Regions from separate parts of the Homo sapiens genome. Here all the other regions are linked to region 5. Evidence: fine-mapped expression QTL. A gene starts in region 5. Each other region holds a variant in brackets. All regions are shown on one strand. Distances are from middle to middle.

Region 1 (5,076 bases), 690 kb after region 5:
CAAAATGGCTCTAAATGTCGCAAATGCATGTGTAGAATTTGAGTAACACTTTTTCAGGAGACGGGAGAAAGAGCAATTTCACTAACATACCATATAATTGCATATGTGATTGAAGTATGTATGGGTAATTAAAGTCATAAATTAAGTGTTGTAAGTAAGCCACAGAATTTCATCTACATCCCTAAGACTTTGTACATTTAGACTGGTGACAAATATTAGAAAAATTGAGAAAACAGGAAAATCATCTGTGATGCTGAGTTACCTTGTATTCAGACTTACTGGACATTTGGTTCCATCTCCTTCTTAACTACCTCCACTGCCTCCATCAGCCTAAGCAATGCCAGGCCACATTCTATCCAAGGTAAAACTGGGATGCCAATGCTGATCCCAGAAGCAAGGGAGGCAGTAAAACAACCTGGATATTTAGAAACAGCATAAACTGTCTTGACTTCATGAATCTTATTATGAAGATTTCAAAGTTTGCCTCTCCAATGGAAAAAACAAATTTCCAGAAAATAGGAATCTACGCATCATGAAAATGCTGATGTGGCTTCAGGTATTTATGGGGAAACAGCATAATGATGTGAAAAGAACCCTCAGCTTGAAGACAACTGTGTGGTCTTCTACAAGTGACTCATCCCTGCTGAAAAATAATTCTCTATGAATCTCTCACATTTCTGTGCATCTTGACAGTGAAGTGCTGACTGCCCTGTGTTCTGGATAAAGTTTTTGAAGGTGTTTGGAAAGCAAACAGCCTGAGAAGATAGAGGCAGTATCACCCTCTAGAGAAAAGGGATAGCTTGCTTACTCTCTAGTGTAATAAAGATAAATCACCCTCCAGGAGAAAGGGCCGACTTGCCTTCTACCCATTGGAAAAGGTCCTGGGTCCTAAGTGCAGGGCTCTCCTCCTGCCATGCAGCTCTGCCTGTACATGTATCAGGGAGCCTTCTTTATGTCCCCTGTGGGAAATGGGGCTTAAGGATTGGATATACAGATGCTGATACATTGGTTATTGTCATTCCGTGTATAAGAAACTGTCGGCCTGGCGCGGTGGCTCACGTCTGTAATCCCAGCACTTTGGAAGGCCGAGGCAGGTTGATCACCTGAGGTCAGGAGTTCAAGACCAGCCTGGCCAACATGGTGAAACCCTTTGCTACTAAAAATACAAGAATTAGCCGGGCACAGTGGCACATGCCTGTAGTCCCAGCTACTCAGGAGGCTGAGGCAGGAGAATCACTTGAACCTGGGAACCAGAGGTTGCAGTGAGCCGAGATCGCGCCACTGCACTCCAGCCTGCATGACAGAGACTCCGTCTCAAAAAAGAAAAAAGAAAGAAAGAAAAAAGAAACTGTCTTTCACCTCTTATCCAGGAGTCTTGCATTTTCTACCAGCATTCATGAAACCGTGACAAGCTAACTAGTTAGTTTGCAAATAGCCTAAAATCTCAGACCCTTCCCAGTTCTTGAAAAATCTCTATATTCTCCAGTTTACTCACCTAAAAAAAGAAGGTAGGCTAAAAGATCTTTAGTGCCCTTTCCAGCTTGATGATTACATATAATTTGTATTAGAAATAACAAAAACCATGGCAAGAATGGTGCTTATATTTTGTTTTTATTGTTTAATCACAACGTTGTTTTTCTAAAAGAATTTCACTTCTCTAAAGCTTTGAGATATTCATGGTGTCTCCTTCCTAAAACAAAAATAACCTGTATGCTTTCCATTTTCAAAACACAATCTCTTCTATTCAGTTAAAGATCCACTCTTAAACATCTCAGATTGAGCTATAATCAACCCTTCTCCTCACAAATCCCTTATGCACACTCGCTTCTTTTAAGGAGCCATTAAAATGTAGCTTTAGTTTTGAAATTTCTCCCAGCATCTGAAATGTTCATTAACATCATGCCTGTGAAATCTTAAATCAATTTATCTATTTTATATTATAAATTTTGTCTTTGTGTCTGTTTCAATCCCAATAATATTAGTCACAAAAAAGTTATTCTCCATATGGGATAAGAAAAATTAGTTACTCACATTTGACAAAAAATTCTCTATAAGGGTAGGAAATTTATTTATTTATTAGTAAGTATTTATGGAGTTCCTACTATGTGCCAGGAACTGCAATAGACATTATCACATAAAAATTAATGACACATTATCAATTACTGCCTTCCTAAAATGCCCAGTGAAATAGGCGAGGCTATAATCTAGTGCTATATCTCATAGTTTTAATTTCCTTAAAAAACAGATAATATACCATTCATACATTAACAAATATTTGTGACTAATAGCTTAATGAATGAATAGATGAATAATGAATGAATAAATACAAGTATGCAAAGTGAGGAGAATCAAGGCTATGGATCAAATTTCAGTGTTGGCAGCCTGGGGATTTCTGAAATCATTTCACATCAGTAATGTTAATAAAAACTCATTTCTTTGCAGAAATAGAATTTAAGTTCTAATTGCATTAAAATCCCTGGGCTAACATTTCTTACTAAGAATGTACATAGGAACTATTAAACTACACTTAAACTAACCCTGTCTTAGAGTTGGCTTATTTTTTTATTTTTTTGTAAAACAGGCCAAGGTTCACCTGGGTATATGTACCACTGCATGACTAACCCTTGTCACAGATCTCTATAGCACAGTCTTCTACACTGATGGCACAGGCCTACTAGGCACTGGGTGGCACACTGAGGCTTTGTAGTTTTTTAACTTAAAGACACAGCCTACACAACATCTGGGAGTGCAGACTGTTGGTTTGATTTTATTACTGATCAAGTAACAAGAAGGCAGATGGACTCTTGTTCTTCCTATTAGTACAGACCCCTGAAGTCATCAGTCTGCCTGAATGTCCTGAGAATTTATATCATTAATTCATTCACTCCAAAATACTAATGTGGTACCTAATATTTCTTCCAATCACTGCCTAGGTAAGAAAGTAGTGGGTGTTCCACAAAGATGAATGGTCTCTCTGTGGACCTGGAGAATTTGCCGAGAAGAC[G/A]GGAGACACGCATGCTCACCTGTAATTATAACATGATGTACAGTGTCCTCATGGTGGTTAGCAGTTCAGTTAAGGTTCAAACAATGTGAGATAAAGTAATTTCAAGAGATAAAAAGCAACCTTTTCTATCTGACTCTCCAAGATGTAGATCAAATGCCAGTTATCTTTAATGTTGCGGGGAGAAGGCTATTTTAGAAGACGATGCTCAGCTTCTTTTCCCTCAAAGAATCCTCCAGAGCCTCTGACTGGCTCATGCATTGCAGAGCCTTCTTGTCTGTGCATGTTTTTATTTGATTCATTGGCTCCATAACTCCCAAGGAGGCAAAGAAAATGTTGCTTCTTCTTTCAAAGCACTTCAAGTCTAATATTGGAATCAGCATGAGTGAATAAAATGGTCCATGTGCTAAGAGAGAAAGGTGTGTCAGATGCAGAAGAGAGTTGTCACTTCTCTCAGGAGCTTCAGCAAGGAGATCTTGATCAGAGTGCTGAGGGATGAGAGGTCACAGGCGAGGAGGGCTAAGCCTGAGCTGAAGCTCAGCAATGGGAAGGAGTCAGGTCGACAGAAGTGTCTCAGCACCTCTGTCCTCTTCCTTGCCTGATTTCCCTAAACATCCCTTCCTGCTCTCCTAAGTCTAATTTGGGCTAATAACATAACTATCTCTTCCTAATATGTCCTCTCTCCAATTTGTAGCTGATCCTTTAGTTTCAACCCATTTCCCTGCCTGGTTAGTGTTGCCAGTTCATACTTGGTGTTTGACCAGCCCACGAGCTTCATCCATAGTGTTCATCCATACACATGGGGACCCTGACCAGGAGGAACACCTCTGTCTCCATCCTGGAACATAACTTCTGTAAACCTGCTTCTTCTTCCACAGTTGCCCAGGATGCCTGCATAGCATCTCAAAATCAATCTGTCATTACTTTTTGGTGATGCTACCTCCTCTTACAATCATAAATTCCAGAAAACTGAAAGGTAATTTTCATTATGTTCAGTCCAATAGAAATTAACATTTAATGGACATTTGATAAACCACAAAAACTGGTCAATTTCATATTATGATGCTATTTGGTTGTTATAACATCTTTTCAATGTAGGAACTGATTTATATTTCATAAACAAAATACCTGAGGTGTAGTGAAGTTATAATTTGTCCAATTTGCACAAACTACAAGATGCTTTAAAGACAAATAACCACAAATATACATATGTATTCTTATTATATATGATATATGTTGTGTATTTAAATGTTTATATATTTATATGTATATTTATTTTATATATTATAATATAAACAGTCAGGCCTCCGTATCTACAGGTTCCACATCTGTGAATTCAACCAAATGAAGATCAAAAATATTCCGAGGAAAAGTAAGAGTAAACAATTATAATACAACAATAAAAATAATACAAATACAAATATATGTAACAACTTTTCATAGCATTTATATTGTGTTAGGTATTATAAATAACCTAGAGATGATTAAACAGTATGTGAGAGAATGTGAGGAGGCTATTTACAAATACTCTCCCATTTTATACAAGAAACTTAGCACCCTCGGATTTTGATATCTGTAGACATCCTGGAATCAATCCCCAGGGAACAGAGGGATGACTATATTATCTATTCTAACATTTACATAACTTTTTATAGTATATATGTTAATATATATTATATATTTATACATTTATTATATATACTATTTACATTTTAATTTTATATCTGTTTTTATATACTTCTGTCTGATTGCTCTGCTTGATCACTGTCAGTGGTGAAAAGCTCATTACTCGGCTGGGCACGGTGGCTCATGCCTGTAATCCCAGCACTTTGGGAGGCCGAAGTGGGTGGATCACTTGAGGTCAGGAGTTCGAGACCAGCCTGTCCAACATGGTGAAACCCTATATCTATTAAAAATATAAAAATTAGCCGGGCATGGTGGCAGTGCCTGTAATCACAGCTACTCTGGAAGCTGAGGCATGAGAATCGCTTGAACCCGGGAGGCAGAGGTTGCTGTGAGCCAAGATTGCGCCACTGCCCTCCATCCTAGGCAACAGAGTGAGACTCTGTCTCAAA
Region 2 (5,076 bases), 150 kb after region 5:
TCATATTTGAATTTATTATTGAACCAGAGTAACAAGCCTGATTTGGTTTATTTATTTTCTTCAGAAATATGTTTGTATCTGTATTTTCAAACATGTGATTTCAGCATTTCACTAGGGTACTAATAATCACAGCCTGGAAAATATAAGGATATAACTAATTCATACTTCATTAGATTCAGAAACATTTTCTCACATCAGTTAATAAGACGACAATTTTAAAAATGTCTGCCTTTTTCTCCACATGGTGCTAATGTGAAGTATTTAACACTATGATGGAAGCAGATTTAGAAAGAGATTTTGCAGATGTCATTTGAAATGTTAACCTATGTTAGGATCTGACTATGAAATAATATTGTCTAAAGGACAATGCTCCTTCCTTTCCTTTTTATTTCTGTTTATTATTTTTTTCTAATTTGGAAAGATTTTACATTATATAATACATACAGATACCTCTACTCAGGAAAGTAATTAAATGGTTGTATAAAAAGGAACTATTAAGTATATCTAATCCTTGCTAAAATGAATTAAGGCAGCCTTAGGAATCTATTGTATCTCCTATGTCACCCATCTTCATCAGCCCTAGTTTTGTTGTTTGTGCCATTGCTACCAATTCTAATCCTACAAATAGCAGGAGTTTAAGCCTTATTCCACTGGTCATGGATTCTCAAATAGTTTTCAGCAGGGTCTTTCCTGACATCCCTACTTTAGTCTCATCATTCAGCTAGTATTTATTGTGTGAAGATGAAAAAGAGAAAGCGGGGGGAAGGCAAGGAAGAAGAGAAAGAGGATGAAGAGTGTGATGAAGAGAAAAGAAGGAGAAAGAGGGAAGAAGCCACATTCTTAAGGCTGAAACTATATCTTGTGGCTTTTGAAGGATTTTTATCTACATCTTAGAAATAGTAAAATTACCATGTGAATTGGTAAATATGGAAGGAATTTTGTCTCTGTTCAAAAGGCTAACTAGATGTAGCATTTTAATAGTTAATAGTGAAGTCAAGCTGGCTCGATTTTTCCACCACGCAGCGACACTTGCTGTATTAGTCAGGGTTCTCTAGAGGGACACAACTAATAGGATAGGTGTATATATGAAGGGGAGTTTATTACGAGAATTGACTCACATGATCACAATGTGAAGTCCCACAATAGGCTGTCTGCAAGCTGAGGAGCAAGGAAGCCAGTCTGAGTCCCAAAACCTCAAAAGTAGAGAAGCTGATAGTGCAGCCTTTAGTCTGTGGCCAAAGGCCAGAGTGTCCCTGGCAAATCACTCTTGTAAGTCCAAGAGTCCAAAAGCTGAAGAACTTGGAGTCTGATGTTCAAAGGCAGGAAACATCCAGCACAGGAGAAAGATGAAGGCCAGAAGACTCAGCAAGTAAGTTTCTCCCACCTTTTTCTGTCTGCTTTATTGCAGCCGTGCTAGCAGTTGATTGGATGGTGCCCACCCACATTGACGGTGGGTCTGCCTCTCCCAGTTCACTGACTCAAATGTTAATGTCCCTTGGCAACACCCTCACAGACATACCCAGGAACAATACTTTGCATCCTTCAATCCAATCAAGTTGACAATATTAACTATCATACTTGCCTCTGCCCATTGGCCTTCAGAAGGGTCCAGCATCATGGTACCCTCCCACCTTGCTCTCTTTCAGATATTCTCAGATGCAGCAAACTACAGACATCTGGTAGTCTTCAAAGGATAGAAAATTAAAGGGACAAAGCCATTTAACAATCATAAAGGGATAAAATTTTGGAAATACCACATTAGCAAATGGTGCGGAAGGACTTTGGTGATGAGAGGGTGGAATGAAAAACAAATGCCACACCCTTTCTTTTTGGTTACCACTTCCCTTTTGGGTAGACAGGCAAGCCTGCAGAGAGGGTACCTCAATCCTGTCCCTCTCCTATTGATGAGAGGCTGCTGGTGAGTGTGCAAGCAGGTTCATTCCAAGAGCATCAACATCTAATGGTGCTCCAGGTGGAAGAGATGAAAACTCAAGTATGGAATGCTAATTCTTTGTTTATATACATTTCATACCTGGATGCTCTTTCTACACTATTGTATAAGGAGCACAGAGGAAAATAAAGTACTTTCATTGTGGGCAGAGAAACTACTTTTCAATAAATTAGAAAATAACTTCATGAAACATAAGTTAGTTGAAAGGAAGAACTGGCCTGAACAGAGAATTGTGACCTGCATCCTGCATGTAGGCAGTGGGCTTGAATGAGGAAAGTACCTGTATGACATATCCTTTCATTGTTGCTCAAATTAGCTAACAAAAGGACAATTACAAACAAAGACAGAGCTATCAATGCTTATTTGCTAAACATCTATTTGGTATTGAGTATACTTATTTGCTATCAGAGAGCATAAAAATGCTTCCATAATCCCCTTGGAAGGGCAGTGTTTTTAAATGTTTAGTAAATGTTGGCTTACTATCCTTCCAAGGGAGCTTATCAGAACATTTTAATGCTGCTTCAGATCAACTGATTGAAGAAGGGTAGTTGTGGATTCCAACAGCTGAAACTATCACCTATTCAACTAAAGAACATGTTCAAGATAAATTATTTTTACAGCCTTTTCTACACACCACACTCTAATTGGGAAGGTGAATATAGAGCTTGTATTAATATATATTTTCTCTGTCTTGAAACCAACCAAAATCATATTGAGAAACTTTGTTTTTTTTT[A/TA]TACCATTCCACTGTGGCCTCTCAACATGGAACCAGAAATATTAATAAGATATATTTTCTTTCTTTTCAAACCCAAACCTAATTAAAAGTTATGCCACGCTCATCCCAATGTCAGACCTTTGCTCACCAAATTCTCCTCTCCGAATCCTGGCCGTTGCTCAAGGTCTATCCTAGGTGCTCTGTCATGAAGGCTTCCTGAGATCACCTCGATCTTCTCTGGAATTCTATGTTGTGTCTATTCTGCATTTCTAAATGAAACATTACCTAACTAGTTTTTCTCAACTTACAAGAACCAGAAAAAATATTTCTTCACTTCCTTAGGTACTTTTTAATCACTAAAAACATACTTATCCAAAAGTGGCATATCAGTTGTTCAATAATGGTTAGATTTTATCAGTGAGAAGTGATGGCTCCCTCCTTGGGAGAATCTACTATTTACTATCTCTCATCCTGAGCTTATCAGCAATACTATATTACATTATTTTGGTGGTCTTCTGAGGGACCTCTTATGATGTTCAACAAGTTTTGTTTTATTTTATTTTATTATTATTATTATTTTTTTCGAGATGGAGTTTCACTCTTGTTGCCCAGGCTGGAGTGCAATGGCATGATCTCGGCTCACTGTAACCTCCGCCTCCCAGGTTCAAGCAATTCTCCTGCCTCAGCCTCCTGAGTAGCTGGGATTACAGGCACCTGCCACCATGCCCAGCTAATTTTTTGCATTTTTAGTAGAGACAGGGTTTCACCATGTTGGCCAGGGCGGTCTCGAACTCCTGATCTCAGGTAATCCACCCGCCTCAGACTCCCAAAGTGCTGGGTTTACAGGCGTGAGTCACCGTGCCTGGACTGTTCAATAAAATTTTGAATTTTTATTGTACTGTTACTTTATTTTATTTTTCTTTGTAACTTTGCATCTAGTCCATTGCTGACACACAGCATTTGTCTAAGAAACTTTTGCTAAAAATTGAAAATAATTCTTTGGAACCTCTCAAATCAGTTCAACAAAAGGTAAGAAGGTCTCATTAAAAACCTGTTTGTTGAATAAACAACACAGAATAACACATAAATACATAACTCATTGCTCTAAAAGTAAGAAAGACTGATATAAGCTAAGAAGCAAGACAACTAAAAATTGTTCTAGTGGACTAATACAAAACTTCAGATAGGAAGGGTTGAAATAGATGGCAAAAAGCTAAATCACAAAACATATTCACTTTTAAAGATGCCTAAAGTTAGCAATTTTGTTTTTAAAGGTTACATTTCTGGTCTGGAAGGGAAAAAGCTTAGAAGTCGTCAGTCCATGCTCCAACAATAAAAGCTAGAAAAACTGAAAAATCAACAACTCTTCTTAGATACTCAGAGAAGTAAGGTTGCAGGGCAAACCACTGCTCCCAAAATTGGAGATATGCACGTAGGTACAGAGAATCACAACTTAATGGAACAGAAACCTAAACCGGGTAGAAAACTTTGGACCGTAATTGATGAATTGTTGGAGGCTTACAGTGGACCATTTGAAAGTTAAAAAATGAGGACCCCACACATTTTTGTAAGTTTTATTTACAGGAGCTCCACCAAGTTCTCACAGTGAGTATTAGAGAAAAATCCCCTTGTGCCCTCAGCAGGGCTAGGGGAAAAGAAACCGTTTTGAAATATGTCAGAGCATTCTGTTCTTAACAAGCCCTGCTCTCAAGAGAAACTTTTATTTTAAACATGACCTAAACTATTAGGATTTTATCAGAACCTAATGACCTGGGGAAAGAGAAATACCCAACTCTAGCCTGCTTTACTAATCCTTTCTCATCTAAGTGGGAGAGCAAAAAACTAAGACTTATTTGTGAAGGTCACAATTCAGAGGCTCAAAAACTGAGACTTAATCGCAAGGCTGTAAAATGCATCACTTCCCCCTACACCTTACCACCACATCGTTAAAGGCACATTTATCATGTTTCCTTCTGCTCTGCACTTACGTCCAGCTATCAGAAAACAATTACAAGGCATACTAAAAGAGAACTTCAAACTTCTTAGTTTGAAGAGACAAAGGAAGTATCAGAGCCAGACTCAGAAATGGCATGAATGTTGGAATTACTGGAATAAAAATTTGAAACAACTATTATTAATATGCTAAGGGGTTTAATGAAAAAATTGGTCAGCATGCAAAACACAAGGACAATGTAAGCAGAGAAATGGAATTCTAAGAAAAAAGTAAAAGGAAATGCTAGAGATAAAAAACATTGTATAAGAAATAAAGGATGCTTTTGTTGGGCTCATTACTAGACTAGACACAGCTGAGGAAAATCTCTGAGCTTGCGCATATATCAACAGAAACCTTCAAAATGAAAAAGCAAATAAAAAAACTAAGAAACAATAACAGTTATTTAAAAAACAAGAACA
Region 3 (5,076 bases), 23 kb after region 5:
ACGCATGAAGCATTATTGAGGACAAAAATAGTCTTAAATCATAAAAAAGATTTATATCCAATATACTAGAAGGTCTGCCTTTCAATTAACTCTATGTAACAATTTCCTAGTCCCCCAGCCTGTGGGTCTCTTGCTGGTAGCTTCACAGGTAGTCCCAGAATAGAGGGGAAAAACGGCAGTGTCACACGGAAGTGGGGGAGGCAGGGAGCTGAGTGCCTGGAGCTGCATGAGGCAGGTGTTTCCTCTCGTGAATACCCACAAAACTGGGATAAAATGTTTCCCTTCTGTGGCCTGCTCTCTAGTCAGAAAGCTTACTGGGATGAGAACAGACAGTGCTCTTACCCCTAGATATCTCTTCTTTCATTAATTCACTTCATTTCTCCAAGTACTTTCTGATGGTGGTCATGGTTACAATTCCAAAGCAGAAAATAATAGAGGGGAGATTTGTTTTTTTTAAATCAAAATGAGGAAAGGCACATCTGAAGAAGAGACAAATATGTACATTTTTCTGAAGGTAACTATTACACATATTCACTTTTTTTTTGAATTGTGGAATTGTTCATGAGTATGTAAACATAGAGAGAGTAATATGAACCCTGGGTGTCTATCTATCAGCTTTGACAATTGTCAACAGCTCTGTTTCCCTTCTTGTTTTATGTCTGCTTTTAAACTTCTAAAAAATATTTTAAAAATTTATACCACAAAGTCATCAGTCATTCCATAGACTGAGAGAGAGACACAGTTTAGGCAGTTTAGGCAGGGTGTAAAAGGATACCAGAAGTGCTGCCATACTTCATTCTCATATGAATAAGTCATTATGGGAGGACAGGAAAGCATGCTACAAGACGGGAGAAAGAGACCCACTGCGGAAGAAACTTGTATCACCAATAAAATGTGCATCTGACTTTTGGACAGGGATAGATTCCTCAGCTCAGCTTCTACTTTGCTATGAGTATCTCGAAAAGCAAATCGTCCTACAGATTGTAAAAGGTTGCTAATCAGTGAAATACGTTACAGGGAATTTTCACATTGATTATGAATGGAAATTATTTTGTGTCTGAGAGAATATGTACAATTTTACCTTGTCTGATAAGGTGAATTATAAAATGTTTTACATAAGAAATAAACCAATTTCATTATAAGTAACATTTTAAACCATTCTTAGTACTTACTAATTTGTGTTCTTCTTACAGGATATAAGTATCCAGTATATGGTGTCCAGTGGCATCCAGAGAAAGCACCTTATGAGTGGAAGAATTTGGATGGCATTTCCCATGCACCTAATGCTGTGAAAACCGCATTTTATTTAGCAGAGTTTTTTGTTAATGAAGGTAATATGAGGGTACATAATTTTGTTATTCTGGGGTAGTTTTGAAGAAAATTGCCCTTATCTGAACTTTTGCCTACCCTTTTGCTCTATAAATGTTTTGTAAGTTCTATAGGTTTAACTTTAAAGAATAATACAAATGTTAAATAATGTGAAAGCCCTAAAATCAAGATGTAAGGTATTCTAATAAAACCAGGACAGTTACTTCAATTATCATACATGCTTCAGTGGGCAGAATTCTTGAACAACAGTGTGAAGAATGTTGAGAGTTTTTTTTTTGGTTTCTTTTTCTTTGTTATTTGTTTTTTGACAGGATCTTGCTCTGTCGCCCAGGCTGAAATGCAGTGATGTGATCATAGCTTATTGCAGCCTCAAACTCCTGGGCTCAGGGGATCCTCCTGCCTCGGCATCCTGAGTAGCTGGGACTACAGGTGCAGACTACCACACCAAGCTCTTTCTTCTTGGATACTTTTAATTTAGATTCTTCCCCATTACTCTCCATTTCTTAGAATAATGCTTTAATTCTAACAGTGTCTGAGAATTAGGTGTTACTTTTCCAAGACAGTGATACAAATTGAATATATACCCACCAGTTTGTGATTTTAAGGCTACCTCTCTGTAGGCATTGGCATACTGGAGAAAGCAAATAAACTCTGCCTGCTGTTTGGTGATGAAAACACAGACATATTCATGCTGTGTTATGTTTGTGGGAAAAATCGAGAATTTGGTTGTAGATGCCTATTTCTTAGTTGAGCATTATAGGTACAGTAAGTCCTACGATTTAAGCAGAACTGTGTGTAGCAGGTCCTTGAACAACACTGTTTACTTTGAAGTCGTTTCATTATAACATTGTTAGAAAAAAATTGGTTTTGTTATACATCGTTGTGCTTAAAAGTACTACAAGAACCTATCGATGACGTTAAGTGAAGACTAGCTGTGTAAGACAGAGGTACAAAAACAACTTGTAAACGGTAGAGATCACTTTGGTGAGGTATAGCCATTTAAAGACTTAAGTGAACTTTGCTTTCATTCCATCTCCAAGCTTGCCCTAAGTTTTTATCAACTCTCCTGCCATTGCTGGGAAGTCAAGTACTTCCTACTGAGTTCACTCTGCTTTAGAATCATGCAGAGCTGAGTGGATGGTTTTATGACAAAAACTCCAAATTAAAAAAAAAAAGTATCCCATATACAGTATTAGTCCAAAGGAACATTTTCATGAGTGCGTGGAGTGAATGAGGGCAGCAGTGGCAGTGCCGCATTTGCTGCAGTAGTAGTCATGTGGCATTTGGTCTATGTGGTCTTTTATCTTCCAACATTCTTTCTGAAAATGCCGTAAGAGCCTGTATTTACTTTGACTTTGGGAGCTTTAGGAGCTCTCACCTCCTCACATTCCAGCTTTCATCATGCCAAACTTCTCACTGTGCCTCCTGGTTTTTCATAATGCTGCCTTACCAGTGAAAATGTCTCACTTCTCTGTCTGCCTCAGCTTCACCAGTTTCTCCATCTTTTTTACTCTTGTAGCATCCAGTGATGATACACCATATACCATAAAAACATTTTTATCATATGATTCTGTGTGGTTACGAGGCTGAGCTTTTTGAGTGTTAGGACCTGTTCTGTTTATATTTCCATCCCCAGGCTGTGTTATCAAGTCTTGTGTATTTGATAGGTAGGTATTTGAATGAGTTGCGGAGTGAGCATAGCA[T/G]GGGATATGCTGCAGGGGGAGTACAGCACAGCTGCTGTGGCCATGCGCGACTGTGCCATAAATCGGGCACTGCTTTATTTGGGGAAATTTTGTCAAGCATTTGCCTCCCTCCCTTCCTTGGTTCCTTCTTCTTCTTCTTTTTTTTTTTTTGGAAAGTAAGTTTGTTAGAGAAGTAAAGAAAAAAAAAGATGGCTGTTCTATAGGAAGAGCAGTCGCATTTCTCTTCTTGTTGATATTTTCCCACTTAATAATGCTGATTGCAGGAAGAAATATTATAAAATAGTCTCTTGAAGATTTTGTCATCTGATCTTTTTAAAAATTAACTTTTTTTCTTGCAGCTCGGAAAAACAACCATCATTTTAAATCTGAATCTGAAGAGGAGAAAGCATTGATTTATCAGTTCAGTCCAATTTATACTGGAAATATTTCTTCATTTCAGCAATGTTACATATTTGATTGAAAGTCTTCAATTTGTTAACAGAGCAAATTTGAATAATTCCATGATTAAACTGTTAGAATAACTTGCTACTCATGGCAAGATTAGGAAGTCACAGATTCTTTTCTATAATGTGCCTGGCTCTGATTCTTCATTCTGTATGTGACTATTTATATAACATTAGATAATTAAATAGTGAGACATAAATAGAGTGTTTTTCATGGAAAAGCCTTCTTATATCTGAAGATTGAAAAAAATAAATTTACTGAAATACAAATATTTTTTCTAATTGATTTGCTTGGGAAATAAATACCATCCCCTACCTGCCCACTCCATCCTCCTTGCTGAAAAAGAAAATAGTCTTTTAAAATCCTACCAATTGTTCATCTTGTTCATTGTGATGTCTCCGTCCTTTGGGTCTGAGGAGTATTTGTGTGTGTGTGTGTGTGTGTGTGTGTGTGTAGGTATGTGTGTATAGGTATGTGTGTGCATGTGTGTATCTACTTTTCTGCCCTGTGTTAACTTCATATTTAAAGCGTACACATCCTGAAAACAGAGTCTGTGTCTTGAACTTTTTATCTTTCACAATGTCCATAATGTCTAGCCCAGCAGGCCCTCAGTAAGTAATTGTCACTAATTATAAGTTTTTTTCCCATGGAAAATAATTTAAAAGCTGTCATATATTTATTTTGGTACACTTTAATGTATTTTTCTTTTTTTTTTTAAGATGGAGCATCTCTCTTGTTGCCCAGGCTGGAGTGCAATGCTGCAATCTCAGCTCACTGCAACCTCCGCTTCCTGGGTTCAAGCGATTCTCCTGCCTCAGCCTCCTGAGTAGCTGGGATTACAAGCATGTGCCATCACACCCAGCTAAATTTTGTATTTTTAGTAGAGATGGGGTTTCGCCATGTTGGCCAGGCTGGTCTCAAACTCCTGACCTCAGGTGATCTACCAGCCTCGGCCTCCCAAAGCGCTGGGATTACAGGTGTGAGCCACTGTGCCCAGCCAACATTAATGTATTTTTCAATCCGTGCTACTCTCCTCCACCCCTCACCATCCCATATAACCCTCAGAAGTATGAAATTTAGGAACTCCTTGAGGACAACCAAGCTGCTGGAAGGAAGAGAGAGAGGGTTTGCTGAGCTGTGTCTGGTAAATGGTGTTTATGCATCTGTTCTCTGTGGGCTTCCAGAGCTTCTGCAAGAGAAGGGGAAACAGGAAACTGATTGGGAATGATATTGGAGGGCATCGTGGATGATTTTACCTGCAACAAGAGAAGAACAATCACCTGCAGACACTGAGCTAAGCCATAATCTTTGGGGAATGAGGACAAATAGCACATAGAAATTGGAAGAGATTAATACATTTAATTAACCAAGAAAGAACCTTACTAGAAATGTGGCAGATTTAGTTTCTGTCCATGAATATGAAGATTCTTTGTTGAGTCTTACTGTTGAATGTGTCTGGCTAAGTTTTTGTCTCCCACCTCTAGAAAAAGGTAGTGACACTATTATTGCTCACGGTGCCAGGGTTCTTCCTAGCCCATTTGTGTTGAAACCATATAGAACTGCTTGTCTCTGCAGTTCCCAAGAACAACTTCATCCTGAC
Region 4 (5,076 bases), 53 kb before region 5:
TGCTGACCTGTTGATTACACTGAACCACTTACATCAGGGAGAGGCAGTAATATGTTCTCATAGAAAAGTTACACATTTCACATATAAATTCGCTTTCCTCACCAAAGTAGCTTCAGAAACACCATTGTGGGTAGATGCTGTTTTGTCATCACTGATGTGTTGTCATCACTGTAGTATCCCACACATCATTGCCTCAGACTGCAGAATTTATTTTATGGCATAGTAGGCATAGCGAAGAGCTCATTCCAACAGAATTCACTGGGCTTGCCAGCTTCTTACCACCTAGATACAGTTGATTGACTTAGAATCAACTAAAGATTGACAAAGAACCAAGCTAAGACTCAGTTATGGTGCCACCTGAGATAAAACGTCCTGCAAGATTTATAATTTGCTTTAGAGGATATCGATATACCTTAAACACATGGTCAATATTTGGTGCAGAAACACTATTGCATAAGACAAGGGTCAGGAAACAATAGATAAAAGTGACCATGTGTCTCTTATTATTACATCTAATAACCTACTCACTAAGTTTTGTTTACTGTATCAAAAAGCGTTGATTCAGAAAATTTAGAGGTCCTAGTGCCCGAGAGAATTATTTGATTAGAGAATACAGTTACGGTTGTAATAAATTAGAAACTGAAACTGTCACATAGCCATTTACAGCTTCTCTTACTATTGAATTGACCTTCAGAAAAGGGGAGTCATGGTACTAGCCAAATTCTAGCCCCTCCTGGGCTTTTCATGAAGAGACTTTTCATGATCTGAATTACTAAGGAGAAATTGGGTTTCAGCTGCAGAATAGGGGTAAGAAAGACCATGTTTGCACCCTAAGGAATTCACCCAAGAGTTCTATGTTATGTGGTAATAATTAAGAAAAACTACATTAACCCAACAAAGTTAGGGCCACCAAGGACTCAGAGCTTAGGAAAGAAAGGTTTGGGTTATACCATCAGATAGATTCTGTCCCACTGGTAGAGAATGTGAGAACCATGAATAGAAACTGAATGAGATTCTCCTCTTGTCTTGTTGTAATGTTTTTGAGAGCTTGACTTGTGACCAAGCGGGTGCACTGTCATTCGGGGTGTGATTTTCACGTCTTGTCCGGTAGCCCTGTCTGAAAAGTCTGGAACCCAAGACACACACAATTTTAAGCAGCACACTTTTTGTTCCAAATGTGTCAAGCTCTCAGGACAGTTTGTCTTAATAAAAAGTCCCATCCATAAGAGGCTTTTGTCATCTCAACGTTGTTGTCTGGTTAGTCCTGGCAATGTGCAATCCCAGGAGAAGCTACCCAGTGTCATGGATTAACAGGTCTGTTAACAATATCCACAGATTTGTGGGATATTGGCGGCCCTGTATGCACAAATGCTATGTTTTTTTTTCTTCTCTGAGACTTCAGCAGAACAAACACTATTCATAGCCATCTGTGGCAACAAGTATTTTACTATCTCAGCCTATTCTTAGGAGTGAATTTTCTTTCTTTCTTTCTTTCTTTCTTTCTTTCTTTCTTTCTTTCTTTCTTTCTGTCTGTCTGTCTGTCTGTCTTGGATAATCATTGAGATTGCCTTTTCTATGCTCTCTCCAAGAAAACTCTCGTGCTTATATGGTGAAAATTTATTCTAAATCTGGAAAATTACCTCCTGGGCTTTTCATGAAGAGAGTTATTGGATTAAGTCGCTACAAGAATAAGTACACCATTGGAAAGTTATACTTCTAAAAAGATACTTTTGGAGGTACTCTTTTGTTACTGATCCTTTTCCCTTTCAACGACAGGTTTTGATTGCCTGTCTTCTTCCATCTCCGAGAGCACATGAGGCTTTTGGGTCTTTGTAGGTAGATGGTCAGTTGAGAAGCTGAGAGCCTAGAGAATATGGCTGTACAGAAACGTGGGTTATTCCCTGTTTGAGGCTAGTAAAACTTTCCTTTCTTTGAGCCATCTTTGTTGTGGTCCTGCATCTTGTGAGAACTGCTTTGCGACTCTTTGGAGCTGTCTAGGGTGTCCTTAGTTTCAGTAATAACCTTAGTTAAGGCTTATTGATTTTAGTGAGTCACTTGGAAAGATACCTTTGGTTTAACAGAAAAAAAAAGTTCAAAAGCCAGGAATATTGGCTGGTTGTGCTGGTGGAAATCTGATAAGAGATTTGAAAACTTTTTTTTTTTTTTTTTTAAAGAACTCTAAGGTCAGAAGCCAGCTTAACTGAAAGCTGATAACAAGTTATGATTTTTTTTTTTAAAGATCTTTCTACTTTTTCTCTTTTGGGCCCTGTTCCTGGAAAGTTTCTTCAGTCGACTGAAATCGTTTTTAATAAGGTGTTAATCTCAGAGGGACTGGTCCCTCTGTTTGCATCCTCTCTTGTTGGCATGTTTTTTTAATGAGAAAAATGCAAAACTTCATTCGCCTTTGGAAAGCTTAAAATCTCTCCCAATTGACTCCTCTAAGACTTGTTCTTCTATTTATTTCCACTTTGGCTCCTCCTTCCTTTTGCCACATGAAGAAATCTAGAGATTTCTCGCACCCTTAGACCCCTTGAGGAATCCAGAAAAAGGTGCCACACACATCCTGGGTATTTGGGTTGGTTCCAAGTCTTTGCTATTGTAAATAGTGCTGCAATAGACATATGTGTGCATGTGTCTTTAGAGTGGAATGATTTATATTCATTTGGGTATACACCCAGTAATGAGATTGCTGGGTCAAATGGTATTTCTGGTTCTAGATCCTTGAGGAATCACTACACTGTCTTCCACAATGG[A/T]TGAACTAATCTGCAATCTCACTAACAGTGTAAAAGCATTCCTATTTCTCCACAGCCTCACCAGCATCTATTGTTTCCTGACTTTTTAATAATCGCCATTCTGACTGGTGTGAGATGGTATTTTATTGTGGGTTTGATTTGCATTTCTCTACTGATCAGTGATGATGAGCTTTTTAAAATATGCTTGTTGGCGCATAAATGTTTTCTTTTGAGAAGCGTCTGTTCATATCCTTTGCCCACTTTTTGATGGGGTTGTTTGTTTGTTTTTCTTGTAAATTTATTTAAGTTCCTTGCAGATTCTGGATATTAGACCTTTGTCAAATGGGTAGATTGCAAAAATTTTCTCCCATTCTGTAGGTTGCCTCTTCATTCTGATGACAGTTTCTTTTGCTGTGCAGAAGCTTTTTAGTTTAATTAGATCCCATTTGTCAGTTTTGGCTTTTGTTGCAATTGCTTTTTGTGTTTTAGTCATGAAGTCTTTGCCCATGCCTGTGTCCTGAATGCTATTGCCTAGGCTTTCTTCTAGGATTTTTATGGTTTTGGGTTTTACATTTAAGTCTTTAATACATCTTGAGTTCCGTGATCTTTTTGGCTTTAGGGGGTACCAGGGATTACTGTGTTTTGTGAGAAAGCACTTAGCCACTGTGTGTGCAATAGCTACCAGGTCACTGGTAAGGGCAGCAATTTTGGAGACATCTGAGAGCAGTTGCAGTAAATAGTTATTACTGCAGGGCGCTGTTCATTTCTTTGTGCATTTAGAGGGGGAGAAAGAACAATTCAAACACTTTGAGGCTGTGGAAACATTTGCCTTCTAGGGCAATAAGATTCCCATTGGAGATAGGCAGATCAGAGAGTGAGCTGATTGATGTTGGGTCGTCCACTAGCATCAGGGGAATATCTTTTGAGACGTACCATGGAAGCATTGCATGGTCCATTCTGAAAGCATTTTCCTCTTTTGTGAGGATCTACACTGAGAATAAAATATATATTATATACCTTTTCATGTGATGCACCTCATGAAACATTCTTGCCAAAGTAAGATTTAATCTAAATCTAACCAATCCTCTAGATCTAACTATTCTTTACCAGAAACGCAGGGAAAAGAAAAACAATGTAATGATGCCAGTAAGAAGCAATCAGAAAAATCCAGAAGATGGTAAATGCTGAACAAAATTGACCCGGTTATACCGACAAATTAATAGCATTTAAAAAAGAGAGAGGCTATTCTTGACACTTATGCACAGCAACCAAATGCACTGTATGAACTGTATGTGGATCCTAATTTGAAGAACTTAAACGAGATATTTTTGAGATAATCAGGGAATTTTGAATACAGAGTGGGTACTAGATAATACTGGGGAATTGTTGCTAATTTTTTAAGTGTGAAAAATGGTATCGTGGTGATGTAAAAAATTTATTTTGTAGTATTTACAAGAGTATGATATTTAAAATAGTATGATATGTGGGTATGTCTTTAAAATATTTCAGCTTATTAAAAAAGTAGGGGAGGTGGATAAAACAAGATTGGCAAAATATCATTGATTGCTGAAGCAGACTGTATATTGGTATTCATTACTATTATTTTTACATATGGTTGAAATGTTCTGTGGTAAATATTATTTTATAAATTTTACATAGAGTTTCCCAAGTGATGTGGGGTAATATTTCTGCTTCAATGGAAAATTATGCATTACATAGACTCTAGATGGCACCTCCTGCATTATTTGATTCTCATTCTATCGAAGCTATTTTACAATTCTGTGAACTGTAGATAACTGATAGCAATGGCAAATAATTCTTGTCTAATAACATGCTAATTCTGAACTGCCTGGAGGAGTTTTGATTGACCTCTCTCCCTCACTGTGAAAGAAGTTAGTTTTGCCTCCATTTGCACATCCCTTTCAACATCCTTTACTCCATGTAAATGTGTGCTTTTTTTTTTAACTTATTTGAACTTGCAATAACATGTGTCTACTTTCCTCCTTACCAGTTGAATAAAATCTTTAACACTTGTTCAGTTTTATATATGTATAAGTGTCATAATTTTATCTCTTTTTGAAAATGTTATCTTTTAACAGTGAAAAATATTTGTCTTTTCTGTGAAGCTGAAAGTAAAATAAATTGGTATACTTATGAATTATTATGCTAATAAATAACTAAATGTTAAATAATTTCAGAGTAAATTGTAAGGTAGCTACAAAAGTCAACTAACTTTTCATTCCAGTTTTGCTTTTATTTCCTCATACCATTAGTTCCAGAAATCCCTTTGGACTCTTTCAGCCAGAGGCCTGGATGCATTTTCGGTAAACACAAGAGCTCACCA
Region 5 (5,076 bases):
TACAGATTCATTGTAATCTCTACAAAATTCCAGTGTCACTTTTTTCACATAAATGTAAAAAAATCCTTAAATTTGTATGAAACCACAAAAGACCCCACATACCTAAAACAATCTTGAGAAAAAAAATCAAAGTTGAAGCCATCATACTCTGATTTCAAGACATATTATAATTATAGTAATTTAATCAAACTAGCATGGTACTGGCATAAAATTACGGGCATTGACCAATGCACTAGGATAGAAGGCCCAAAAATAAACCAATACATATACTGTCAATTGATTTTTGACAAAGGTGCCAAGAACACACAATGGGGAAAGGGCATCTTCTTCAATAAACAGTGTTGGAAAATCTGGAAATTAGACCCTTATCTCTCACCATGAACAAAAATCAACTAAAGTGAATTAAGCAGTTAAATATGAGACCTGAAACTGTAAAATTACTAGAAGAAAACACATGGGAAAAACTTTATGACATTGGTCATTTACATTTAATATTTTACTATTACAAAAAGATGCTCCAAAGAGCATACTTACACATATTTTTTTTGTTCACATGAGCACGCATTAATCTAGGTACACACTTATATCCAGAATGTACTGGGTTACAGAACATTTAGATCTTCACCTTTACCAGATATTGCTTAATTTTTCTCAAAAATAGTTATAATAATTACAATTCCACAAGAAATGCAGAGAACTGTCATTTTACTACATCCTTGACTTATTATCAAAGGCTTACATTTTTGTCAATTTACAGAAACCTGCTTCCAAAGATGGAGGAAGCTGGGAGACCAAAGAGGCTGACCAATCGAATTTCTCAGAAAGAAATACTTAGTAGAGACAAACAGAAGCGACCCCTGCACTTGCCCTCCAGAAAGTATGCTTTATTTAGCAAGCCTCTAGGGTAAAGACAAGTGCAACTAGTTAGCTCTTAGACTATTGTGATCACTGGGGACGTTAGATAAGCATCTTTATGAGGGGTTATATATGTTATGAGCATTGTTTAAAGACCTTTGCTGCAGAACACCTCGGTATGCTGTGGGTCAAACATCAGTCCCCAGGATAGTTTTGCTTCAAGATGGTGTCACTCTTGCCAGGAAACAGGCTGTTTTTCTACACAGTCTAATGGATGTGACATATTATCTTGCATTTTTCTGATGACTACAGAAAGTTTGGTTTGCTTTTCACATTCTTTTTCCATTTTTCTATTGTGTCATTTTTCTTATTATTTCTTCGCATATTTTAGAAATACTTTATATTTTATAACTATATTTTCCAAGTTTGTGCTTTAACTTTAATTTTCTTATATAGTCAATTTTTAATTAACATTTTTATTTTTAATGTTTTATGAAACTCTTCCAACAGCCTAAGTTAGGAAGATATATTTATATATTTTCTTATCAAAGTATAATATTTTGCTTTCGTATTTACATATGCACTTCACCTCGAGTTTATTTTTGTGTGTAACGCCGGGTAAAAAATTTTTCCTATGTGGATAGTCAATTATTCTGGCACCACAAGTTCATATTTACAAGGCTACTTGTCTATTTAATCATGCTCAAAACCAGCTCGGCCCTTTCATGTCTTTCATCACATCCTTTGTTGCTTACCTCTCACCACACCCTTCTACAGAAGCGTTATTTTCTTGTTAAACCAGACTATTCACTGCATTTACTCTTCTTGCAACATGCTAAAATTGTTCCTGTTGTCTCTACGAGTCACGCTTTCTGCCTTTTTTCCTTACTGAATTTAAACCTCTTGTGAAAAAGACTGTCCAATTTACGTTTTCACCCTTAATACTGAGCATTGATGTAGCAGGTTTTCAAATATTCTTGTTTTATGCTGAATTTCAGTTGGCCCTTATAGATGGAAACTTTCACTGAGTACAAGCTATATATCCATGTATTTAGGAACAATCAACAGTTTTAACGAATAGGAACCAGTCATCTTTTCTGCCCCGGTGGATAGGCTTAGTGGTGGTCGGTGGATGGCGCTGACCGCGGTTGATCAGAGGAAGCTGACGCCGTTTGCAGGCGTGGCCTGGGCGTGCCCGCTTCAAAGTAGACGCCCGGAGTTGGCCCAGTTCTGACCCTAGTGATGCGCCTGTGCGTGTGTTCCTATCGCCGTCCCGTCTTCACTTCCTACAGATGCCGCGACCCCCCAAATAGCAAGTGTGGACATTCACATTCAGGGGCACAGGCTGTCCGTACAGCGAACGTTGTCACCATTCCCGGAGATAGGGCCCCGACCTTCAAGGGGGCGGTGCGGTTGGCGCGCAGTTCTCAGGCGCCTTCTAGAATCCCCTGCCAGCCTCCCCGCTGCCTGGTTACCAAACTCGGCCGGGGACACCCAACCTCCCCTCTCGAGGACCTGGGTTGGCCAGCCCAGCTTTGTACGGGTGACTGAAGTCCACATCGACGTAACAGTTGAAAGGGAAGGACGCGGAGACCACCCGGTACCCGCCCCAGGCGTTTCCAGAGTCTCCGCTTAGGCGGCCCGTGGGGGTCGGGGTCGCGGTCGCGGTCGCGGACCGGGGACAGAGCAATGGGGCGGGCGCGCAGCGCCGGCTGCACTCCCAGAGCCTCCCACCGCCGCCCCACGGCCGCCTAGCGCGCGCCGGGACTGCATTTCCCATAGGCCCACGCTGCGGAGCACCGCCCACCCGAGTCTCACGCGAGTGCGCTGCCGCGAGGTGTCCCTGCCGCAGCCCCCGCCCGCCCGCAGAGCTTTTGAAAGGCGGCGGGAGGCGGCGAGCGCCATGGCCAGTCCGGGCTGCCTGCTGTGCGTGCTGGGCCTGCTACTCTGCGGGGCGGCGAGCCTCGAGCTGTCTAGACCCCACGGCGACACCGCCAAGAAGCCCATCATCGGTAAGGAGGCTGTGCGGGGCCGCAGCAGACGGGGAGGAGCTGGGTGTTGGCGCTGGGCGCCTCCCGCCGCCGCGCTCCAGCTGGCGCGTCCCGCCGGGAAAAACCCCCAGATGTGCTTCGCTTTTGGTGCAAGGAGGAACCCGGGCTGGGCACCATTTAGGTCGTACTGAAATGTACCTGGTTGAGGTACCTCGTTCATTCCTTTAGACTCATATGACTCTTAAAGGTGGGAGGGAGGAGGGTGCACCATGAAGAATCCTGCGGATTTTCTTTTTTTGTACACAGCTAGGAATTTCTACTAAAATAAAACATTTCCTTTTCGCACATAGTTGGGAAGTTTTACTCATTTACATCTACAAATTCTGTACATGCATTGCATTCATCAAAATGTATTGATGGCGTATTTAAAATACCAGTGCATTGTAATAGAAAATCAAGAAATTAAGGTATAACTTGGATTTTGTCATGTTCAGTAGCAGAGGACAACAGTGGCTGATATCCTAATGTGAGTTCTATTTGGTGTTAAAATGCAGCCCACAATTTTTCGTTTCCAACATATTTGTGTTTTAAAGAGGTAGTAAAATCAGTCTGTGTTACCAAAACACACATTTGAGACAGGCCCAAGGAAAGCTACCTAGGAGAAATCATCCTGGGGTTAAAATTTGCCCAAAGAAATTTGTGTGTGGACATTAAGATTAGTTTTATTTTGGCTGTAGGATTATGCCTTTCATACTATTTTTTTCTATGAATATTATCACTGTATTCTGTAACTAAACAGAAAGTAGATGAATGTTTTTTCATATAGGTAGTGCCCAGTTTTCAAATGGGTTGCTTACTAATATTTGGAACTTATTTCATAGCTGTTTAACATGGTGATTTGATTCTCCACGAATTAACTCAAGCTGTAATTAATGTAACAGGTTGCATATTGTGTGTCCAGAGAAGAGAAAAAAAAGCAGAGGGGATTCTTCCCCTTTCCTAGAATCAGGGGTAGCCCTGCGTCAAATATTTAAAAAAGGGACTTTGCTTTTGGTCACTGAGATCAGCACAACATCGTTAACTGAGTACCGACTATGTACACAATCTTGCTCTGGGAAGTGCAAAGGATTGAAAGATGACAAGCCACAAAAGTTGTGAGATGGCCTTAAATTATTGGTGGAATTTTGGTCATATTTTGAGGGACAGGGAGAACAGCTTGAGCTCTTTTCCCAGGGATGGGAAAAGTGAATATGCGTGGGCCCAGGGGAAGGGGAGATGTTGGTGGAACTCACTCTGATGTACTTCTCTTTCTGGTACCCTTGTGCTCCCATGATGCCCCATGTCTCCTTTGTGGTACCTCACCCCATGTACCCTGTACCACTCCATTTCCTATGACACTCCTAGTTCTTCGTTCCCTAGCCAAACTTTGTTATTCCTTAGTGAAGATGATCTTACCTACCAGTAAGGAGAAAAAGTTTTACTGAACAAATTTTGGCGTTTGACATGTTAATCTGAATACCTGATGAATGCCAATTGTAAGAAGCTGGGAATACAAAAGTGAGTAATACAGACAACAGCTCTTCCTATCAGGTGGCCTACAGAGACACTGAAAGTGTTCCAAATGCTGAAGTGCTGAATAGGAGTAGGCACAGGTACTCACCCGACAGACGTGTTTTGATGTATACTGGTTGCTATACTCTGCTGGGGCTGGGTTTCACTGGTAAAAGGAGGCCAGAGAGATGGGTGGGGCAGAGCATACGGGTCTTACAGAGTTTATTAAAGTTTAGGGACCCACTGAGGTAGTTAAACAAAGTGGTGACACCTGCTTGCTGATCTATCGCTACCTGATGTCCTTTCCTATTGCTTTCTGCTTTCACTCACCTGGCTCTAATAATATGGATTCCTTGCAACGTGACAGGCACAAATCTGACTCCTGGCCTTTGCACTTGCTATTCCTTTGTCCTGGATTGCTCTTTTCCCAGATATATGAATGTGGTTTACTCTGTCACCTCTCTGAAGTCCTGGCTCAAATGTCATGTTTTACCTTCTCAGGGAGGACTTGCCTGGCCACCGTGTTGAAGAGACTGTCCTTTCCTACATAGATGGGCTCTCCTTCCCCACCGTCTTTCTCTCCTTAGTGCTTACGACCAGCCATCACTCTATATATTATGCCTTTTTGTCTTGTTTATTGTTTGTCCTCTTTCCCCTCCCTGCTACACCCTCGAATTAA
Region 6 (5,076 bases), 89 kb after region 5:
CAAAAATATTCTATTTTATTTACTCTAAATATATAGATTTTGAAAACACTTTGAATTTCTGTTTTCATTGGTAAAATAGTGTGGCTTTATTAGGATGCAGTTGTAAGTTTCCTGTGCACTTGAATTCCAAATACAGTTCTGCTTCATGTATTTTTTAACTTAGTAAGAATATTTTTTGTTTTTTTTAACCCATATGTTGTACTTCACAAAAATTGTATTGTATTATTTCCACAAAATAAATATATTTATCTTTAATATTTACTACTTAATTAGATTATGACAGGATTTAAAATAATATCAGAGTTTTACCTTGGACAGAATGAACATCTAAAAGGCTTATGCTTGCTGGGCATGGTGGTTCATGCCTATATTGCTAGCAATTTGGGATGCCAAGTTGGGAAGATTATTTGAAGTCAGGGGTTTGAGACCAGCCTGGCCAACATGGTGAAACCCTGTCCCTATTAAAAATTAAAAAATTAGCTGGGCATGGTGGCACACACCTCTAATCCCAGCTACTCGGAGGCTGAGGCAGGAGAATTGCTAGAACCTGGGAGATGGAGGTTGCAGTGAGCTGAGATCATGCCACTGCACTCCAGTCTGGGTGACAGAGGGAGACTCTGTTTCCAAAAATAATAAAAATAAAATAAATAAAAAATGAAATAAAATAAAGGCTTATGCTAAGCCAGGTGCAGTGGCTTATGCCTGTAATTCCAGCACTTTGGGAGGCCAAGGTGGGTGAATTGCTTGGGCTCAGGAGTTTGAGGCCAGCTGGGCAACAATGGGGAAACACCGTCCCCATTAAAAAAAAATTCAAAAATTAGCTGGACGTGGTGGCATGTGCCTGTAGTCCCAGTTACTTGGGAAGCTGAAGTGGAAGGATAGTTTGAGCCCACAGGGCAGAGGCAGAGGTTGCAGTGAGCCCAGATTGTGCCACTGCACTCCAGCTTGGGAAACAAACTCAGATCCTTTCCGCAAAACAAAGCAAACAAACAAACAAATTTAAAAGGCTTATGCTAATTCTATGAACTGGATTAAAAAATTAAAATTATTTAAATAATTTAATTGGTGTTCTGTTGAAAGCATTTGATAAACTAATGTAATTCCAGTATTATAAACTGGTATATAAGACTGATATCATTATTTTAACTCTGAGAAATTCTTCTTCTCCTAATGTGTCAGTGCATTAACTTACACTTCCAGGTGCTCTCCACTGACCCTACCAGCTGGATATGGTGGGAAGAGGTGCTGGTAGGAGCTGTAGATTTCAGTGCCTCTCACACACCCACCTGAGACTGGAAGGTGTTAGCCATCTCCACTACTCCTATCCAAGTACATATCTTTATCAGTGACCAGGTTGCATACTGCCCTTGAAAGGAAGGTGCTAGTTATATTGTGTCTTTTAAGTTTTGGAGAAAAGAGAGTGGTATTGTTGGTTTTCTTACAGATTTAACCATACAGTTAAAAGAGAATTCTAAAAAAAAAAAAAAAAAAAAAAAAAGGATTCTGTTTATTGCTCATGCATCTCGCATACCTTGATAAGACTATGGTAGAAATGGAAAGAGTTGTCTACGTGGCCATTCTAGATTTGCCTAATACAACTATTAATAGTAATATTTCATTTGAAAACTAAAAAATGTAGGACAAAGTCTAAACCAGATAAAGTGCCAGGGCAACTTGTGTAAGCAAGGACTGTTTTAACCAAATTAGGACATCTGGTTCCTGCAGTTGATGGCACTATAAATCAGCCACACCTTCTATGTGTTTTTTCTTTTCTTTTTTTTTAAATTGCTATTTGTTTTCTTCTTTCTTTTTAAACTGTTACTTGTTTTTTGGCTATACCTTCTCTGCATATCAGAAACCTAGCATGATGTAAATGTTGTAAACTCTAGAAATAATATATCACATATAGGTAAAACTTAAATTATCAAGATTCTAGAA[C/T]TAGACAAGACTACAAAAAATTTAACTATTAAGGAGGAATCTTTGAAAAGTAAGTAATAAAGAAACTGAAATATCAAGAATTCTTCATGGATGGGATAGAGCAATGAGTCTTTTTGGCCACAGAAGCCACCAAGTCCTCAAGGTGAGGATGTTTTCATATTAAAAAACAGTTTGTCATGCATGCATCAATACCTTCCATTTGCTAGAGTGGGATGAGAGCTCAAGTAAAGGGGCAAATTAAAGTGTACACAGAGGGCGAGTTTACAGATTCTTAAAGCTTTTTTAAAATGACATCAAGTGCTTTAAAAAATGAAGAAAATTAAGAAATAGAACACTTAACAAAAGACTTAAAAATAACTCATTAGGAAAGACCTTCAGTTTTTAATTATGTTTGGGGAAAGGCAGTCATATTACACTGATAAGAAAGTAAAGCAACTGCATTTTTAAATTCACTTTTTTGAGAAAGATAAGAGAAGAGAAGATGCTGAATTAAGTACTTTCTTCAGTGGAAATCAGGGTGTGAATTTCAATGAAACACGAAAAGAAATAGAAAAGGTATGGACAGGTTTTCAAAAGTATTAGAAAAGGAAGGTTGGAATAAAAACATCCAAGGAAATCTGTAGTTATAACAGCAAGAACACTATTGAGCAGAAGAGATGGAGCAACTGAAGGAAGCATCAGGGCACAGCTTGCTGGGAGCCTGCAGTACAGTGAAATTGAGTTCCATGTACTTTGATTATTAGATCCTGGAAGTGAAAAATATATTTTAGAAAAAAAAAAAGCAACACAATTAAGGGTTGGCATCAACTATCCAGAAAAGCCAGCCACACAGTGGGCTGCTCTCTACACCCATTCTCAGAACCTGAGGTGTTACCATCAAAGATCCCCTGGAGAGAGCCTGCAGCCAGGAAACCCTTTTGCAGTCCTTTCAAATCTTCTTCCTGTGCCAACTTCCAGGAGCACAGCCGAGCAACTTCTTGGAAGAAATAATATTACTTGTAACAGAATATCTTTGTGGTTACTCGCTCTAGCCACCACCAATTCCTGACAAGGATTCTCACAGAACTGAAGGAATTACAGAGCTACTTTAGATTTATAGCAGCATCTGACTGTGCAAATACAGACTTGTATTCTACTTGTAAAAAAATACACAACCAATAGCAACTTTTCTATTTGTTTATGGGACACACAAATGAAGTTTCCATTAGATAATTCAGTGCTACTGATTCAGGTCCCCACTCAGCCATGGCAAACCTGATTGACTTTATGCAGAATCAAAGGGGAACTCAAGGCAATTGACTCTCCTTCGTCTCGTGCTGCTGTTCAGGAGACAACATGTGCAAGGTGGCTGGCTTTCAACCTGGCAGCTTCCTATGAGAAATAATTCACTACATGTCACATGAAGTTGAAGATGTAGCCCTCCAGGGGCTATGGGGAGAGTCACCCTCAGCTCTGAGAAATTTACTGTGCTCCTCAGAGGCAGTCTAAGTGCTAATGTTTCCCTTCTCTTATGGAAATGCTTGCTGCTTATGGTAAATCCAGAATAGATACTTGGATCCTCCTCTGTGGACTGGAGTCTATTTTCCTGTACGTTTATGCATATCTCTTTGGATTTTTCAAGATTCTGCTGAGCTAAAAGCTCAGAACATTGGCACGAAGACGTGAATTAACACCGTTAGATGAAGAAAGAGAGGTTGGAACTGGGCAAATTGAAGCAAGATCTTCTTTTATCATCTAGACATTACATTAGTAATGCCTCTGGTTTTATAAATATGGCAACTTAACACAATTTAAAGTTTAACTTATTTTTCATGTCTGATCTTAAACATATTTTGAAATTTGATAAGGACTTTGCTTTCATCTTTGAAAAGATACTTTAAAGTTGTAAAACACTTTTAATACACAGAAAAATGTAGAATATAAAATAATAGATGCCTGTGTTTCCACTTTAAGATAAATATTTTTTGCTATATTTTCTTCAAATTTCTTTTTATTTTAAGAAATACTGGCCAGGTGCGGTGGCTCACGCCTGTAATCCCAGCACTTTGGGAGGCCGAGGCAGGCAGATCATGATGTCAAGAGATGGAGACCATCCTGGCCAACATGGTGAAACACCATCTATACTAAAAATACAAAAATTAACTGGGCGTGGTGGCGCGTGCCTGTAATCTCAGCTACTCGGGAGGCTGAGGCAGGAAAATTGCTTGAACCCTCGAGGAGGAGGTTGCAGTGATCCGAGATCACCCCACTGCACTCCAGCCTGGGCGACAGAGTGAGAGACTCTGTCTCAAAAAAAGAAAAAAAAAAAAGGAAATACCAAGTCACAGATATAGGTAAAACTCTCTCTTTCATCCTCTTGACTTGATTTTATGTATCAGGCAGATCTTGTTTTGAATTCCAGCTCTACACTTACTAGTTGTGTAACTGTGGGCAAATTATTTAACCTCTAAGCGGCAGTTGCTCATATGGGCAAGCTGCTTGCTCTAGTTATCTATTGCTATATAGCACCCAACCACATAACAGTGTCTTAAAACAATAATCACCATTTGTTTTGCTCATGTATTGGCACGTCTGAGCAGAGCCTAGCAGGAAAGGTTTATTTTTGCTCCATGCAATGTTAGCTGGGGCACGGGAGGCTGCAGGAGCAGCTTCTGAGGTGGTGCATTCACATGGCAGGCAAGTCAAGACAGGCTGTTGGCTGTTTGCTTAGCTGGGGCTGAGGGCTGGAGACCTTGTTGCTCTCCACAAGGGGCTCTACATGTGGCCTGAGCTTCCTTGCAAAATGGTAGATGAGTTCAAGGGCTAGCAACCAAATATAGCCAGGCAGAAGCTGTGTCGCCTTCTATGATCTGGCCTGAAAAGTCACTCAGAGCCACTTCCACCAAACTTGATTAGTCAGGACAGCTGCCCATCCAGCCTGGGCTTAAGAGGCAAGAACAGCAACTCCCCACTTCTTGATGGGGAAGTTAGACAGGAAATACTGTTGTGACCATTATTAGAAATTAAATTCTTCTACAATGGCTAACACTAATAGTAACTTCCAATGGGTTTACTATGAAGATTGACAAGAAAAATGTATATTATATACAGGACAGTGCCTTGCCAGCCCTTGGAAGGAGCTCAAATATATCAATTTAA

Direction of the effects. Positions count from the first base shown, and alleles are read on the strand shown. Sizes are in standard deviations (SD) of each study's normalised expression. Not every link is listed here.
For the expression in monocytes after LPS of the gene that starts at base 2,721 in region 5, allele TA in region 2 goes with a higher level than allele A (moderate effect, 0.66 SD a copy in Fairfax 2014).

The links. PIP is the estimated chance that this variant, and not a neighbour inherited with it, causes the effect.
Region 1: its variant is the best candidate, but not a certain one, in a credible set for the expression of GGH in aorta (GTEx, PIP 0.85).
Region 2: its variant is the best candidate, but not a certain one, in a credible set for the expression of GGH in monocytes after LPS (Fairfax 2014, PIP 0.81).
Region 3: its variant is the best candidate, but not a certain one, in a credible set for the expression of GGH in whole blood (INTERVAL, PIP 0.75).
Region 4: its variant is the best candidate, but not a certain one, in a credible set for the expression of GGH in aorta (GTEx, PIP 0.62).
Region 6: its variant is the best candidate, but not a certain one, in a credible set for the expression of GGH in whole blood (TOPMed, PIP 0.88).

Annotation. Positions count from the first base shown.
Region 1 is chr8:62,350,706-62,355,781 of GRCh38, reverse strand. All of the region lies in intron 1 of NKAIN3 (sodium/potassium transporting ATPase interacting 3), which reads right to left. Among named protein-coding and RNA genes, the nearest start is that of NKAIN3, 100 kb to the right of the region's middle. The variant G/A (reference allele first, on the strand shown) is at 3,005.
Region 2 is chr8:62,887,543-62,892,618 of GRCh38, reverse strand. The region is part of intron 4 of NKAIN3 (sodium/potassium transporting ATPase interacting 3); the gene reads right to left. Among named protein-coding and RNA genes, the nearest start is that of GGH, 150 kb to the left of the region's middle. The variant A/TA (reference allele first, on the strand shown) is at 2,686.
Region 3 is chr8:63,013,748-63,018,823 of GRCh38, reverse strand. It overlaps GGH (gamma-glutamyl hydrolase), which reads left to right. Exons shown (of 9, transcript NM_003878.3): 8 at 1,194-1,331; 9 at 3,371-3,745. The coding sequence ends at 3,492. LOC107986946 (a long non-coding RNA gene) reads right to left here. Exons shown (of 4, transcript XR_001745930.2): 4 at 4,414-4,665. Among named protein-coding and RNA genes, the nearest start is that of GGH, 23 kb to the left of the region's middle. The variant T/G (reference allele first, on the strand shown) is at 3,033.
Region 4 is chr8:63,089,545-63,094,620 of GRCh38, reverse strand. No RefSeq gene overlaps it. Among named protein-coding and RNA genes, the nearest start is that of TTPA, 6.0 kb to the right of the region's middle. The variant A/T (reference allele first, on the strand shown) is at 2,754.
Region 5 is chr8:63,036,451-63,041,526 of GRCh38, reverse strand. GGH (gamma-glutamyl hydrolase) reads left to right here and starts at 2,721. Exons shown (of 9, transcript NM_003878.3): 1 at 2,721-2,867. The coding sequence starts at 2,759. RefSeq lists a silencer at 2,328-2,687.
Region 6 is chr8:62,947,367-62,952,442 of GRCh38, reverse strand. All of the region lies in intron 5 of NKAIN3 (sodium/potassium transporting ATPase interacting 3), which reads right to left. Among named protein-coding and RNA genes, the nearest start is that of GGH, 89 kb to the left of the region's middle. The variant C/T (reference allele first, on the strand shown) is at 1,939.